2 separate regions of the Homo sapiens genome follow, and region 1 is linked to region 2. The links come from fine-mapping of genetic effects on gene expression. A gene starts in region 2. The other region holds a variant in brackets. All regions are shown on one strand. Distances are between the middles of the regions.

The links. PIP is the estimated chance that this variant, and not a neighbour inherited with it, causes the effect.
Region 1: its variant is fine-mapped to the expression of TPST2 in whole blood (TOPMed, PIP above 0.99).

Annotation. Positions count from the first base shown.
Region 1 is chr22:26,522,453-26,530,784 of GRCh38, reverse strand. TPST2 (tyrosylprotein sulfotransferase 2) reads left to right here. Exons shown (of 7, transcript NM_003595.5): 6 at 2,523-2,571; 7 at 4,518-8,332. The coding sequence ends at 2,564. Among named protein-coding and RNA genes, the nearest start is that of TFIP11-DT, 14 kb to the right of the region's middle. The variant C/T (reference allele first, on the strand shown) is at 4,523.
Region 2 is chr22:26,586,748-26,595,079 of GRCh38, reverse strand. TPST2 (tyrosylprotein sulfotransferase 2) reads left to right here and starts at 4,948. Exons shown (of 7, transcript NM_003595.5): 1 at 4,948-5,027. It also overlaps a transcript of CRYBA4 not described here. RefSeq lists enhancers at 2,148-2,297, 4,594-4,733, 5,250-5,750 and silencers at 4,844-5,213, 5,224-5,403.

The DNA of each region.
Region 1 (8,332 bases), 64 kb after region 2:
ACCCACCTCGGCCTCCCAAAATGCTGGGATTACAGGCGTGAGCCACTGCTCCTGACCCCAACCCTTTTGTAAAACACTTTTAGCCTTGTTGTTCAAGAGTCTTCAAAAGATCTGAACCCTTCCACCTGCTCCTGCTGATTCCTTTTTTTTTTTGAGATGGGGTTTCACTGTGTCACCCAGGCTGGAGTGCAGTGGCGCCATCTCAGCCCACTGCAACCTCCACCTCCCGGGTTCAAGCATGATTCCATTTTTTAGAAGTGAATTCTAAGGGAATGATTCAGTAGAGCTTCAGTACCCAACAGAAGAGAGGCAGAATCAGGATGTGATGTCATTTAAAATACTGCAAAAATTGGAACCATTCTTAGGTAAGCAGTCAGTAAACGGTGGTACATGCACTCCACAGAATATCTGTAGCCATCCAAAATGGTGCTAGTGAAACCCAAATGATGAAAAAATAGTAAGAAAGCAAAACAAAGCAGCTCATACTATACAATTGCAACTAATGTAAAAATGCATATTCAGGTGGACAAAAAAAGGCAACACGCAGGAGTTGGGTGCAGTGGCATGCCTGCAGTCCCAGGTTCTCAGGAGGCTGAGGTGGGAGGATCGCTGGAGCCCCTGTCTCTTAAAAACAACAGCAGCAACAACAACAACAAAAACGAAGGCAACGTGCAAAAATGAGAAGTTTCAGTTTGTGGATAATTCTCCTCATCCCCACTGTGTTGTTCTGCCTACATCATCTTTTTGGTTAAAACAAATACTAAATTAGTGCTCACTAATTCTGGCTACTTTCTTGACGTCAGCAAAAGATAGATCTCTGATTCCCACAAAGGGAGTGGGACCTCTCCCCAAACAACCAGGAAATGCTCAAAAGCCATGGTCCCTAGCTCTCAGATCGCATTAATTTTTTTTTTTTAAATTCAAGGCCAACACAGTGAGACCCCATCTCCCTACAAAAAAGAGAAAGCCTTAGCTGGGTATGGCACATGTGGCACATGTTCGTGCCACTGCACTCTGGCCTGGGTGGCAGAGTGAGACCCTGTCTCATAAAAAAGAATACAACTCAGGTACAGTCAAATGCAAGAAGCGTAGGGTGAGGTATGGGGGATGGGTCACAGAACATCCATGCCCTTTCCCGGCATGACACCCTCCCAGCCTCTCAATGTGTTTACCAACCAGGAAGCTTTCCAAATTCTGTCATTTAGAGATTTCATCATAGAGGCATGACTGATTAAATCATGGGTCATGGGTGATTGCCCAATCTCCAGCTCCTAGCCCCTAGACCCTCTCCCCTCTCCCCTCCCAGGAGGTCAGGGAGGGGAGAAGGCAGGTGGGGCTTAAAGTTCCAACCTTCTGGCTGGGTGTGGTGGCTCATGCCTGTAATCCTAGCACTTTGGGAGGCTGAGGCAGGCAGATCACTTGAGGTCAGCAGTTCAAAACCAGCCGGGCCAACATGGTGAAACCCTGTCTCTACTAAAAATACAAAAAATATTAGCCATTCGTGGTGGCACACGTCTGTAGTCCCAGCTACTTGGAAGGCTGAGGCAGGAGAATTGCTTGAGCTCAGGACGCGGAGGTTGCAGTGAACCAAGATTGCACCACCGCACTCCATCCAGCCTGGGCAACACAGTGAGACTCCGTCTCAAACAACAAAAAAAGTTCCAACCCTCTAATCATGCCTTGGTCTTTCTGAGACCCCTTCCCCTAATCCTGAAGCTATCTAGGGACCCCCAGCCATTAGTCATGTCATTAGCATGCAAAAGATACGTTTTGTTTTTTTTTTGTTTTTGTTTTTGTTTTTTTGATACCTAGTCTCCCTCTGTCACCCAGGCTGGAGTGCAGTGGCATGATCTTGGCTCACTGCAACCTCTGCCTCCCGGGTTCAAGCGATTCTCCTGCCTCAGCCTCCTGAGTAGCTAGGATTACAGGTGCCCGCCACCACACCCGGCTAATTTTTGTATTTTAGTAGAGACAGAGTTTTGCCATGTTGGCCAGGCTGGTCTCAAACTCCTGACCTCAGGTGATCCACCCTCCTCGGCCTCCCAAAGCGCTGGGATTACAGCCATGAGCCATGGCGCCCGGCCAAGATACCCTTATTCCTTCAGAGATTCCAAGAGTTTGGGGAGCTATGTGCCAGGAACTGGGGACAATGAACAAATATTTATTATTATACCACAGCTGAAATGCCATCTTGTAGAGTCCTTTCCTGGCCACCGTTTTTGAAGTAGCACAGATACTGATCACTCATAGCAGCCTGTCATATTGCCCAAGTTTGACATTTTCTTGCATCTGTGCGTGTTCAGTAGGCTTTTTCTTCAACTCGAACGTAAGTTCCGTGATCCTAGGTTTGGGTCTGTCCCGCTCACCACGCTATCCCAGCACCTGGCACATAGTAGATGTACAGTAAATACTACGTGAATAAGCATGTGCATGACTCAGTGATGCTGAGGGGTGACCCTCAATACAGCAAGGCATCCCTCACCTGGCCGTGACCCCTTCTTCTGTGTATTGTCTTTCTCCAGGTGAACCAGAACAGCACCTCCTCCCACTTAGGAAGCTCGTGATTTCCAGGTAAGCCTGTGGACTTCACTGGGGGTTCCCGCTGCTTCTGGGTGGCCCCGGAGCCACTTTTCTGAAAAGCCACTTTTCTGTCCTTCCAGAGCCTCCCTGGGGTAGACATGTCCACTAGGGTGGGCTGACCCAGCCCCATCAGAGGTTTCCATGGTGACAGACTGGGGGTGCTATTTATAGAATCAAGGCTTAGTTTTCTAGCTCTGGATCAAGGACAGGGAGAGGGATTAACGCTGAACCAACCAGAAAAAGGTTTGTCTGACACTGGGGACAGGGCAGGAAGCACCACTATGATGGGGGAGGGGGAGATTCTGGAACCATTTTTGCACAGAATGCTGTCTGCCAGTCTGGCTTCTAAAAACAGCATCAGCGTTGGGCCAGAGCAATTAATGTTCTAATAACAGTCACAAGTCGTTCTGTTCTAAGAATAACCCCCATGGCCGTTGGGCCAGGTACTGGTCCTGTGTTACTCATTTAACCCTCAGCATCCTTGGGAGGCGGATGACATGATCATTCCATTTTACAGAAGAGAAAACCAAAGCACAGAGAAGGAAGGGCTTTGACTTGCCCAAGGCTACACAGCCACCAAGGGACAGAATTCCTCCCAGGTTTGCTTTTAGTGAATGATTTTAAGTGCACATTTATCCATCCATATTCTACTAAGGGGTGGGGAAAGGGATTTTTTTGAACTTGGTAATTCAAAGATTTAAGATCTCCAGGTTTAACTCCCTTCAGCCCCTGTTTTCTTCATCTGGAGAATGGGGATTCATCATTGCCCACCTCTGAGGTTGGCCATGAGATGGCGTGAGCTGGCCCAGGTGGGAGTGCTTGGAAACCGTGAAGTGCTGGGCCCTCGCTGTGGACTTGGGCACTGGAGTTAAGGCTGCATGAGTGAGCTCACTTCCTTCTGTCCCCCAGCCTCTATGATCAGGTTAAAGGAAACCTCAAGAGAGGTTATTTTACATGGAAACACCTTCCAGCTTGGACTCTTATTTTTAGTCTCTGTATCTATTTTTAAACAATCAGCATATGTTTTAGTTTTTCTTTCAATTTACTTTGCTCCAACCTGCAAGGACTCTGTCATTATTAGGGTTCCCATCTTGAGTTGCACTAAGATCCCAGAGTTTTTGTTTTTGAGACAGAGTCTCACCCTGTTCCCCAGGCTGGAGTGCAGTGGCACGATCTCAGCTCACAGCAATCTCCACCTTCTGGGGTTCAAGTGACTCTCGTGCCTCAGCCTTCCAAGTAGCTGGGGTTACAAGTGTGCGCTACCACACCCAGCTAATTTTTGTATTTTTAGTAGAGACGGGGTTTCACCATGTTGGCCAGGCTGGTCTCAAACTCCTGGCCTCAAGTGATCTGCCCACCTCAGCCTCCCAAAGTGCTGGGATTACAGGCATGAGCCACCACACCTACCCAAGATCCCATAGTTCTATTCCAAAGAAAAGAACCCTCTCATGAAAAACAGCTTTCCTCCCTGTTCCTCACTAACTGTTCCCTCGCTGCCTTTCTGCAGATCATTAGTAGAATCCTGGACCTTCTCATTGACAAAAGCAGATTTGTTACTTGTTTTACTGTTTAAATGAGATACCATATAGAGGTGCTTTAGCTGAATCCTGGGTACAGAGTTGGCCTTGAACAAACATGAGTCCTTCTCTTGCCTCCAAGAATTCATCAGTATTTATCACATAATCACTGTCATTTGCTCTGTGTCCATAAGAAAAGTGTATATTTGAGGTCAAGTGGATGCAAGATGAGATGTGGGGAAGAACCCAGGAAACGTTTTTAAATTTAAACTCTCTCTGGCCATCTGGGATGCATTCTTAAAACATTACATGCTTATGCGAATGGATGAAGACAGTATGTTCTGCAATCACATGTATAAATATAAATGATCTATTTCAGAATTGTTACTCTGAGCCTAACACAGTCTTCCCCACTTTCAGATCTC[C/T]GCAAATGACTTCATTGCCAAGAAGAGAAGAAAATGCATTTAAGTGGAAATCGGACCTCTAATCCAAGCATATTGCTTGCTATTAATCGCCAAAACAGGACTGCTGATGAGGAATGTATTTGCATATGTTTGCAAAAGCTGAATCATTGAAAACGTACCTTGAAACTCTCTATCTCTGGACACTCCAGGGTAGAGAATGAAGGGTATGGAAGTAGTCCGGCTTTTGAAACTTAGGTATTTTATATTTTTCCCCTCAAGAACTTTTTTTTAAGAGACAGATTTGCCATCCTCCTTAATTTGCAGGACTGCCTTGGTGGCTTTGTTTGCTGGGACAAGGCCCACAACCTGTGCCTCTCCTATTGACCCTTACTTTGAATTCAAAGAATCTATTTAAGAGTTTAATATATGAGGCTTTCTTTGATTCCTCCTCAGTTCTACCTAGTTTCACAGAGGAAAAAAATACTCTTTGAATAAAGTGAACAGAGGCTCATTTGTTTGTGCCTTACTTTACTGAATGAATAGGGTTTTTTTTTTCTTTCCATACTGGATTTTGTCAGGTAGATTTGTGATGAGCAAAAAGCTGGAGAATATAGGTGCATGTAAGGCACAGCTGAATTCCTGTGTCAGGGTCCCCAGGGCCACCCCCAGGATCGATGATTGGCTAGAAGAACTCAGAATTCAGAAGAGCTATTATCCTTATGGTTATGGTTTATTACAGCAAAAGGATAAACATTAAAATCAGCAAAAGAGGCCGGGTGGAGTGGCTCACGCCTGTAATCCCAGCACTTTGGGAGGCCAAGGCAGGCAGATCGCCTGAGGTCAGGAGTTCGAGACCAGCCTGGCCAACATGGTGAAACCCCGTCTCTACTAAAAATACAAAAATTACCTGGGCGTGGTGGTGTGCACCTGTAATCCCAGCTACTCAGGAGGCTTGAACCTGGGAGGCGGAGGTTGCAGTGAGCGGAGATCGTGCCATTATACTCCAGCCTGGGTGACAGAGCAAGACTCCATCTCAAAATAAAATCAACAAAAGAAAAAGGTGCATAGGGCAGAGTCCGGGAGAGACCGGCCTCAAGCTTCCAGTTGTCATCTCCTGGTAGAGTCTTACAGACACACTTAATTTTCCCAGCAATGATATGTGACAACACGTACTAAATATTACCAGCCAGAAAGCTCACCCTAGCCTTGGGGTCTAGGTTTTTATTGCATGTCAGTCACATAGGGCAATCACATGACCGACTTTAGTTACTTAATCACCAGCTGCTCCAGAGGTCAAAATGATACAGCATGGCCCAAGGTCCCCACCATAAATCACATTATTAGCACAAACTATCTGGCCTGGTATGGCCCAAGGCCTGAGGTATACAAAGACACCCCTACTTGGGAGGATATTCCAAGGACTTAGAGGTTATCTCCCAGGAGCCCATTAAGGCCAGTTTTTTCTTTGAGATGTGCTGGGTTTGGACACTTCAAGCCTGCTGAGTTAACCCTTATAGCACAGTCCCCAAATGCTGAGGGACCAACTGGGCCTACAATAAGTTTGTATCTTTAAGGGTTAAGGTGTTTTACCCATACCTCCTTGCCTTATATCTCATGATAATATGAGGCTTTTGGAAGGCAGTGACTTATTGTGGCTTGGGGCATGGGTTTTTGGAGTCAGGCTGACCTACTGGCTGTATGGCTTGAGACTTTGTCTCTTCATCTGTAAAATGGGGAAGTTAAAACTTCATGGTGTGTATGTGTGTATGTGTGTGTTTAGACAGAATCTCGCTCTGTCACTCAGGCTAGAGTACAGTGGCGTGATCATAGCTCACTGCAGCCTCGGTCTCCTAGGGTCAGGTGATCCTCCCATCTTAGCCTCCTGAGTAGCTGGGCATGTGCCACCACACCTGGCTACTTTTTAAATTTTTTTTTTTCTGTAGAGACGAGGTCTTTCTATGCTGTTCAGGCTGAACTTCATGGGTTTATTGGGGATGGCTAATGGATGACATTGGCGGTGGTCCTTGATACCAGATAAGCCCTCAGTGTGAAGCAGCTCTTATTTTTCCTTGTCTTGAGATTGCTCTGGAATGGAAATTAGGCTTTTTTGAAGGTGTGACCCTTTTTGTTCATTTCTTCAGCAGTTACTTTTTATTTTTTAAATGTTTGACACACAGTCTCTGATAAATGATCATTCACCAATCACCGATTACTCTCCTTGCTCTGTTAAGTGTGACACTGTCCCTTTGAGAATCTGGCGACAGCTATGTATCCCATCACCACACACCCCAAAAAAAAAATTTATGTCTGGTTCCAGGAGTTACCTTTTATGAGAAGTCCATCTGTGAAGACCCTGGATGTTCAGAGAACTTCCTGGGAAAACACTGAAAGAAAATAAAGAGGCCGGGCCCGGTGGCTCATGCTTGTAATCCCAGCACTTTGGGAGGCTGAGGTGGGCAGATAAGCTGAGGTCAGGAGTTCCAGACCAGCCTGGCCAACGTGGCGAAACCCCATCTACTAAAAATACAAAAATTAGCTGGGCGTCGTGGCGCATGCCTGTAGTTGCAGCTACTTGGGAGGCTGAGGCAGGAGAATTGCTTGAACCCAGGAGGCAGAGGTTGCAGTGAACCAAGATCATGCTAGTACACTCCAGCCTGGGCAACAGAGTGAGACTCCATCTCAAAAATAAAATAAATAAAACAAAATAAAATAAATACAATTTCTGTTTCTAGCCCCTAAGTGGTAGCACTGGGTCTTGTTCCCTGAAAAAAACTAGGCTCAGAATCCACTCTCATTTCATCTCCCCTGATTTGATCTGAAAAGATTTTGTTTAGAGTACTACATGAATATATTATAAAACATGGGACAATCAGAATTGATAGTAAGAAGGCAAGTGGCTCTATTTGTACTTCCTCTCAATAGCTCCTAAAGGTAATGCTACCATTTTCTGTTTGTACATAGTCTTCCAGACTTTAAATTTTTGAACATATAAATATTATCATCTTAAAGACGTATGGAAAAAACCATTTTGAATAGGTTATTCCAAAATGTAATTTAACAGATTGCTCTGGAGGATTGTTTGTTTGTTTGTTTTGGAGACAGAGTCCCGCTTGGTTGCTCAGGCTGCAGTGCAGTGGCACAAACACAGCTCACTGCAACCTCTAACTCCTGCAAACACAGCTCACTGCAACCTCTAACTCCTGCAAACACAGCTCACTGCAACCTCTAACTCCTGCAAACACAGCTCACTGCAACCTCTAACTCCTGCAAACACAGCTCACTGCAACCTCTAACTCCTGGGCTCAAGCAGTCCTTTCACCTCAGCCTCCTGAGTAGCTGGACCATGACACCTACCTAACTTTTTATTTTTTGTAAAGAGGGGAATCACTATGTTGCCCAGGCTGGTCTCAAACTCCTGGGCTCAAGCAATCCTTCCTCAGCCTCTCAAAGAGTTGGGTTTACAGGCGTGAGCCACCGCACCTGGCTCCTGGAGCATTTCTGATGTGAACATGTGCTGATCTAACACCACTCCTTTTACCAGCTGCCTGTTCTAGAGCAAACCATCTTTTTTGAGCATTCCACTTTGGCTAGGCCCTTAGGCTGTTAGCAGTTTTCATCGCTACTGGCAAAGCTGCAGTGGACGTTCTCCTGCACATATAACCTCTTGATGCCACTGTATGAGTGAGTCTCTGCAAAATGAGAAGTAGAATTGCTGGGGTGAAAGGCATACATACTAACTTTTTTGATTAATTCCACCCATGTACCCTGATTTGGGCAGAATTTTAATCTCACTGTGAAATCAGAGCTTTGTTCTAGAGCCTTTCTTGGGGG
Region 2 (8,332 bases):
GTTAAAGAAAATAACATGTAGTAAGGCTGAGAGTGAGTGTGACTTAGGAACCATAAACCTGGTGTTCCTTCCATGGGTCCTAGTTTCAACATATCTCTCAAAACATGAGCATCTCACCACCTGGAGCAGAATTTCAGAGCTTAAAGATAAGCCACACTTTTGCCTTCAAACTAAAACTAAGGTTTCATTTCATCAGGTGCTCAACCCCAGAAATCATGATGAGTCCAAGTTTAATATTGACGGAAACCAGTGAAGCTGGACTTCCAAGGGGCTATGTTGCCTTCAGCCTTTTCGGGGGCTTCTCCAAGGCAATTTTGACTGCATGGGTTTGGCTCTAAATGCTGGCTTTTTGTTTGTTTGTTTTGGTTTTTGTTTTTTGTTTTTTGTTTTAGCTAGAGTCTCACTCTATCGCCCAGGCTGGAGTGCAGTGGCGCAATCTCAGCCCACCACAACCTCCACCTCCCGGGTTCAAGCAGGAGTGTCCCTAAGCACTGGCTTTAAAATACAATGCCTGAGGAAACTGGGGACTTCATATTGTTTCAAAGCTAGATAGATCCCAGCTTGTGAATCTTTGAGTCTCAGGCCTTTGGAAAGGCAAAGCATCTTGATTATGAGAGAGCGGCTCTCATTCTCATCGACAAGAGGCAACCCGTAATCTTTTAGACATTGGAGCATAAGCCCAACGCCGGCAGTGTGTATATGTGGGGTGGAGGCAGGAGGATCACCCAGAGGCATTGAATGCTTTTGTGCCAGCATGAGATGCTGATAAATACACAGCAACTGGGCTCTGGGGAAAAGACATGGTTCCAGGGTGCCCTGCAGAGGTTCTAAAGAGATGAGCCTTCTTAGAGCCAAACTGCCACGACAGCCAATAGCCTGGGTCAGATACTTAGGATCAACGAATGCTTTGTGAAGCCTGGATCCCCAGCTAGGAACAATAATACTACACCCTTCCAGCAGGAGAAGAAAACCTGCCCACTTACTTTTACTTCCTGCCCACTGCCGAGCCACTGCCTTCTATCAGTGTACTAGAAAGGGTGAGAGAGACCTGAGTTTGCATTCCAGCTCTGACAATTACCAGCTATTATCCTTGGCCAAATCAAATTACCTGCTGGAGCCTCTGTTTCCACATCTGTAAAATGGGAGTAATGATAATAAAACACCAAAAGCTTGGAGAGGGTAAATGATCAGCTTGAATATAATAATTATAAGGTGTTTAGCACATAGCAAGCACCTGAATAAAGTGTTTTCTGTGGTTGGGCATGGTGGCTCACACTTGTAATCCCAGCACTTTGGGAGTCCAAGACAGGTGGATCACTTGAGGTCAGGAGTTGGAGACGAGCCTGGCCAACATGAAGAAATCCCATCTCTACTCCAAATACAAAAATTAGCCAGGCATATTGGCGCATGCTTGTAATCCCAGATACTCAATAGGCTGAAGCAGGAGGACTGCTTGGACCCAGGAGGCGGAGGTTGCAGTGAGCCGAGATCACACCACTGTACTCCAGCCTGGGCAACAGAGTGAGACTCTGTCTCAAAGAAATAAATAAATAAAATAAAAATAAATAAAATGGTTTTTAAAAAAATTTTAATTAAAAAAAAAAAGTAGAGACAAGGTCTCACCATGTTGCCCAGGCTGGTCTCAATCTCCTGGGTTCAAGCTATCCTCCCTCTTCAGCCTCCCACAGTGCTGGAATTACAGGAGTGAGCCATTGAGCCTGGCCTAAAGTGTAATTATTGACATAACATCAACCTCATCCTCTTGAATGTCAGAGCTGGAAAGAATTTTTGGATCAATGTGTATTATGCTACATCTATTCTTCCTGCTTTTGATAAATATTCTTCCTGCTTTTGATAAAACCTCTTAAGTACTGGGTTTTGCCTAGATGCTGGGAAGATAGGTTGGGGAGGAAGACAGAAGAGGTATCTGCTCTAGGTGTTCCCGGCTGAAGATGCAGACAGGAGGAATGAATTATTTTGTCTGCCTTCAAAGTCACATCAAATTCCTGGGCTGCACAGTCTGGTGTCTGGTCCACCACGATGTCCTGAGGGGCAATTAGCCTTCCTCAAGGAGGTGACAGACAGATTGAGACCTGGAAAGGTTCACTGAGCTAGGGGTACTGAGAGAAGTCCCAACCTAGACAACAAGACGATCATTCTGATCCTCCTCCTTAGCCTCTCAACTGAGATCTGCCAATTCTGTCTTCCAAACCTCTCCGGAACCAAAACACCCCCTCCATGCCCACATCCCCTCTCTGGGTTCCTGAATTATTTCAACACCCTCCAAACCAGTTTCTGCCTGTTTCTTCTTCACACAGCACCAGAGGGATCTTTGCAGAAAGTCAGGCTCCCCATGCCCTTCCCCTGTTGAACACCTTCCCTGTCTCTCCATCACTGCAAGAGAAAAGCCCCGACTCCTTCCCACAGCCCACAAAGCTCTGCAGCATCCAGCCCTGCAGACACCTCTGATCTCTTCTCTCACCTCCACCACATCCTGTCCACTCTGCACTTCATGCAAGGCCCCAGGCTCGCTTCCTTCCTGCTAGGCCTTTGCACCTGCTAGATTCTGTGACCAGTGCACTCTTCCAAGGATCCCCACCCATGCCTCTGGCATGTATACACACGCCTGGCCCTCCCTCCCTGGACCAGGTTAATCTCTGCTGCTCCTGCCTCATCAGTTACAGGTGCTCACTTTACTGTGAAGGCTTGTTGAAGGATCTAGCTTCCCCAACTTGGACCTTTGTCCCCCTGTTAGCTGCTGAATCTGTGCCTAGCATAGAGAGCTCAGGAAATGCCATTGCTAGAATGTTATTAAACAAATGCCCCCATTCACACCTCTTCCTCTGAACTCCATTTTTTTCATCCACAAAAGGACATTATAAAACACCCTGCTGGTGTTTAATCTATGTGTCTATCAAATCAGTCATATGAAGTCTCTAACATGCACGCAATAAACACTATGTAATGTTGTTGTATTGTTTCCAGACCAGTAATGGCTGGCTCCATGGAGGCAGCTTTATCAGTCCCAGCATTTTCCATAAGGCAAGCACTAACTATTTATTGGACACATGAATGAATTAATGAATGACCAATGAATGAACATGTGGCTGGCCATGGGCAAATTACTTAATATCTGTGTGCCCTAGTTTCTGTGTGTGTGTGTGTGTGTGTGTGTGTGTGTGTGTGTGTACTCACCCAGGATGGAGTGCAGTGGTGCGATCTACACTCACTGTAACCTCTGCCTCCTGGGTTCAAGCAATTCTCGTGCCTCAGCCTCCCAAGTAGGGGGAATTACAGGTGAGCAGCACCATGCCCTGCTCATTTTTTTTTTTTTTTTTTGAGACGGAGTCTCACTCTGTCGCCCAGGTGGGAGTGCAGTGGTGCGATCTTGGCTCACTGCAACCTCCACCTCCTGGGTTCAAGCGATTCTTCTGCCTCAGCCTCCTGAGTAGCTGGGACTACAGGCATGCACCACCATGCCCAGCTAATTTTTGTATTTTTAGTAGAAACAGGGTTTCACCATATTGGTCAGGCTGGTCTTGGATTCCTGACCTGGTGATCCACCCGCATCGGCCTCCCAAAGTGCTGGGATTGCATTTTTTTTTTTTTTTTTGAGACAGAGTCTCACTTGTTGCCCAGGCTGGAGTGCAGTGCAATCTCAGCTCACTGCAACCCTTGCCTCCCAGGTTCAAGCGATTCTCCTGTCTCAGCCTCCTGAGTAGCTGGGACTACAGGCATGTACCACCACACCCGGCTAATTTTTGTATTTTTAGTAGAGACAGGGTTTCGCCATGTTGGCCTGGCTGGTCTCGAACTCCTGACCTCATGTGATCCACCCACCTTGGCCTCCCAAAGTCATTTTCGTATTTTTATTAGAAACGAGGTTTCACCATTTTGGCCAGGCTGGTCTTGAACTCCTAGCCTCAAGTGATCCGCCCGCCTCGCCTCCCAAAGTGCTAGAATCACAGGTGTGAGCCATGCACCTGACCCAGAAATTTATTTTAAACAGATAATATATACATATGGCAAATAGAAAGTTAAAAGAGAACAAAGAACCAAAGTTCACAATGAAAAGTAAGCCTGCATGCCTACCCTACCTTTTCTTCAGGTATTCAATGCACAAGCATACGATGCATAGATAGCTCTATTATTTTTCCAATTTTACACATGAAGAAGCAGAAGCACTGAAAGGTTATAGAACTTAGACTGTGCTAAGATTTATCAGTCAGGAGTTTTGTTTCATTTGTGTATATCAGGGCTTCACAACCTTTACGCTATTCGGCATTTTTTGCAGGGTTTTTTTTGGGGGGGTAGTGGCAGGGCTGGGGGTGGAAAGGGTGTCCTATGCACCGCAGAATGTTTAGCAGCATTCCAGGCCTCTACTCACTAGATGCCAGTATCGCCTCTCCACTTCCCCAGTTATGACAACCAAAAATGTCTTCAGAGATTGCCAAATGTCGTGGTGGTGGAGGGATGTCAGGGCAAAATCCCTGATAAATGGAGAGAATGTGGTATATCCACAAAAACTCCCTCCAAAACCACTGGTGTGTATGACTATACATCAGACCACCCCTTTCTTTTTTCTGTGTTTTACACAAACAGTAGCACGAATACACCCCGCTGCGGGTCTACTTTTCTTTTCTTACACCACTTTTTGGTGATCATTCCACTTCATTGCTTACAGGCAGAAAGGAACTTCTCTTAAACAGAACTGACCGGGAGAAGTGGTGAGCTGCCCGTCCTAGGGGTAAGCCAGCGAGCAGACAGGGGCTTCCAGGGCGGCGGGGCGGGGTTCCCGGGGCGAGCCTCCGGGAAACTTCCCGACCAGCCTCTGCTCACCTCGCGGTCCCGAGGCGCAGTGGAGGGGATGGGGCGGGGCGGGGCGGGGCCGCGTATCGGGCCCGCCCCCGTACGTCACGTCGCCGCGGCCCCGCCCCCGCGCGGGCACCTCCCCCTTCCCCGGCTGGGGCGGCTGGAGAGCCGGGAGTCGCTGGGTGCGTGGGGCTGCCTCGCCGCGTCTCGCCACGGTAGGTGGCCCTGGGGCGGCAGGGGGTGGCCTCGGGTTGCAACCGGGGGCGCGGGCTGGGGGCCGTGCGGGTCGGCCTCGGGCGCCTGGCAGCCCTCCGTCCTGGCGGCTGCCTCCGGGCCCGGCGCGACTGCTCGGGCTCCGGGGCTGGGAGCTGGGATCTGGGAGGCAGGCAGGCGGCGCGGGCGCGCGGTTCTGGGATCCGCACCCGCTCGGCGTCCCGAGCGCTTTCCGCGGGGTGCGGCATCCACCGGGCCCCCGTTACCACGCTTCCCGCTTCGGACCCAGCGCCTGGGAGACGCTCAGCGTCTGTTGGCGGGGGGACTGGGGGGGAGGGCGGCGCGTCCCCGCCTCCGGAGTCCCCAACCTCGCCCAGGCGCGCGGGGACCCCCAGGCGGGCGCCAGGGCGCGTGGAAGTTAACTTGCAGCAGCCGTGGAGTTGCGAGGAGCGTCAGAAGTGGAGGCGTTGGGGGCGGAAATCGTCGGCTGGGGAGGTGGGCGCTGGGAGCACTGGGTTGGGGAGCCCTAGTGAACTTGGAGGTCACTGGTGAGGAGTGGAGAGGAATTTGACCCGAGGATCCCACCCCAACCCCCAACCTCCCTCCGTAAACTCCGCTTCTCGGTGTGAGCTGGATGGGAGGTGCCCGGAAAGCCGGGACTGGGACTGGTAGCAGGGGACTGGGAGCATGGGCTCAGAGGCTGAGCACGCCTGACCTGGCAGAGTCGTTGTTAGATGGGACAGAGGTCGAGGTCTGGCATTCCCACTCAAAGGCCCGTTCCCTAGGGAAGGAACCATCCACCTCAGCAGAGTCATTAGAAAGAACCGTGCCTAACCTCTTGCCCCCTTCCCCTTTTACAGATGGGGAGACTGAGGCTTGGAGAGGTCACCTGCCCGTGACCCTAGGATTCACAGCTAGGATGTGGCAGAGCTGAAACTCACTCACAGGCCTCCTGACTTAATGTCCTTGGGGATGTTGAGGAGGCGGGCTGTTGAACTCCTACTTATCCTACAGAAGCCCCCTCAAGCAGCACCTCCTCCGGGAAGCCTTCCCTGGCATTCTCCTGGTATTGTTGGGTGCTTCCTGTTTTGAACCCCACAGAGTTAGCCAGCCCTTTTTCTCACTTCCCAACAGACATTCCCTTGCATGTCTGTCTGCCAGACTGGGCTGTGGGTGGACACCTCTCCCTAGCCTCCATGTGATAACCCTTTCATCTCAGCAGGGTGGTCTGCTGGCGAGGGTAGGCTTCTGGATTTGAACAGATCTGTGACACACCGGATTTAGTAGTGATGTGGCCCGGGCGACGCATTTTCCTTCCGATCTAGTCTCAGTTTCCATAACTGTAAAGCTGGGTTTATTTCATTGTCCTAAAGGAACTGTTGGGTCATTTCTGAATCCCCCCACCCCACTGAACCCCAATTGTACTGTTGTTTACTTAATATACATCTTTGTATCACCTGATTTTTAAAAATCTCATGCAAACTTTTTTTATAACAGCTTTGTTGAGATACAGTTCACATGCCGTACAATTCACCCTTTTAAAGTATATGTTTCCGTAATTTTTAGGATGTTCAGAGTTGCATAGTCATCACCACTGTCTAATTTTAGAACATTTTTATCATGCCCAAAAGAAAGGCTGTTTCATGGTCACTCCCCAATCCTTTCTTCCCCTATCCCTTGGCAACCACTTACTGACTCTCAAATTCTCTATGAATTTGCCTGTGCTGGACATTTCATATAAATGCAGTCATATACTATGTGGCCTTTGGTATCTGATGCTTTTCACTTCAGAGAATGTTTCTAAGGTTCAGCCCCTTGCAGCCTGTATCAGTACTTCATTCCTTTTTTTTTTTTTAAGTACTTCGTTCCTTTTTATGGCTGCATAATATTCTATTATGTGGATATACCACATTCTATCCATTTGTCAGCTGATGGATGTTTGGGTTGTTTCTAACTTTTGACTATTATGAATAATACTGCTATGAACATTCATGTACAGGTCTTTGGACATACATTTTCAGTTCTCTCAGGTATATTTCTAGGAGTGGAATGATTGGGTCGTAAGGTAACTTTAGGTTTCACCTTTAAATATTTTTTTAATTTATTTTATTATTTATTTATTTTGTAGAGATAGGGGTCCCACTATGTTGCCCAGGCTGGTCTTGAACTCCTGGTCTCAAGCGATCCTCCTACCTCAGGCTCCCAAAGTGCTGGGATTATAGGTGTGAGCCACTGCACCCAGGTTTAACCTGTTGAGGACCTGCCAGACTATTTTTCCAGAACAGCTGTACCATTTTATATTCCTACCACCAGTGTATGAGGGTTCCAATAATCTTAAATACATTTAGTGTTCTCTGAAGCAGTCATAACCCTTGAAATCACTGGCTTTGATGTGTTAGTTGTAAACTATTTTCAGGCCGGGCACGGAGGCTCACACCTGTAATCCCAGCACTTTGGGAGCTAAGGTGGGCAGGTCACCTGAGGTCAGGAGTTCGAGACCAGCCTATCCAATATGGTGAAACCCCGTCTCTACTAAAAATACAAAAATTAGCCAGGTGTGGTGGTGCGTGCCTGTAACCCCAGCTACTTGGGAGGCTGAGGCAGGGGAATCGCTTGAACCCAGGAGGCAGAGGTTGCAGTAAGCCAAGATCAATCACACCACTGCACTCCGGTCTAAGTGACAGAGCAAGACTCTGTGAAAATACCGAAGCAAGGAGAGGCAGTGTAGGACCCAGTGGCTTACAGAGCCCACCCCAGGAGCTGGCACACAGTATTAGGAGGGGGTGAAAGGAAGGTGGAAGCTGCTCGGATCTTCCCATCCCGGGCCAGCCTGGAGCCCCCTTGCCAGCTGAGGCTTTGTGGAGGCCAGGGAGACCCTCCATGGCTCTCCTAGACCATAACTGAAGGGGAAGACTTGTCCCTTGACCCCAAAATTAAGTCTGGTCCTGCCCACACCCTATCTGGAACCCCCCACGCTACTCTGAAGGTGACTTCTCTGGGTGGCCACCGGAGTGTCCTATGTGAGTTGCTGCTTATTTCAAGAGGGGCCACCCCCCAGGCCTGAGATGAGCAGTCCTGAGTTACAGACGCTTCATCTGTGAACATTCTGCACACACAGACATCTTCCCCCTCCTCTCAGCACCTTCCCCACCCCTAGGACCCTGTGTTTCTTCCTTCACACTCTTTGCTTCAGCAAGAGGCTGCACCGGAAGAACTCAGGTCAGAACCCAGCGTTTTCACAGAGGAAGAGTTCCTTGAGAAGGTAGGTAGTTCACCCCAGCTTGAACCTGTACTCTGCTGGTTCAGG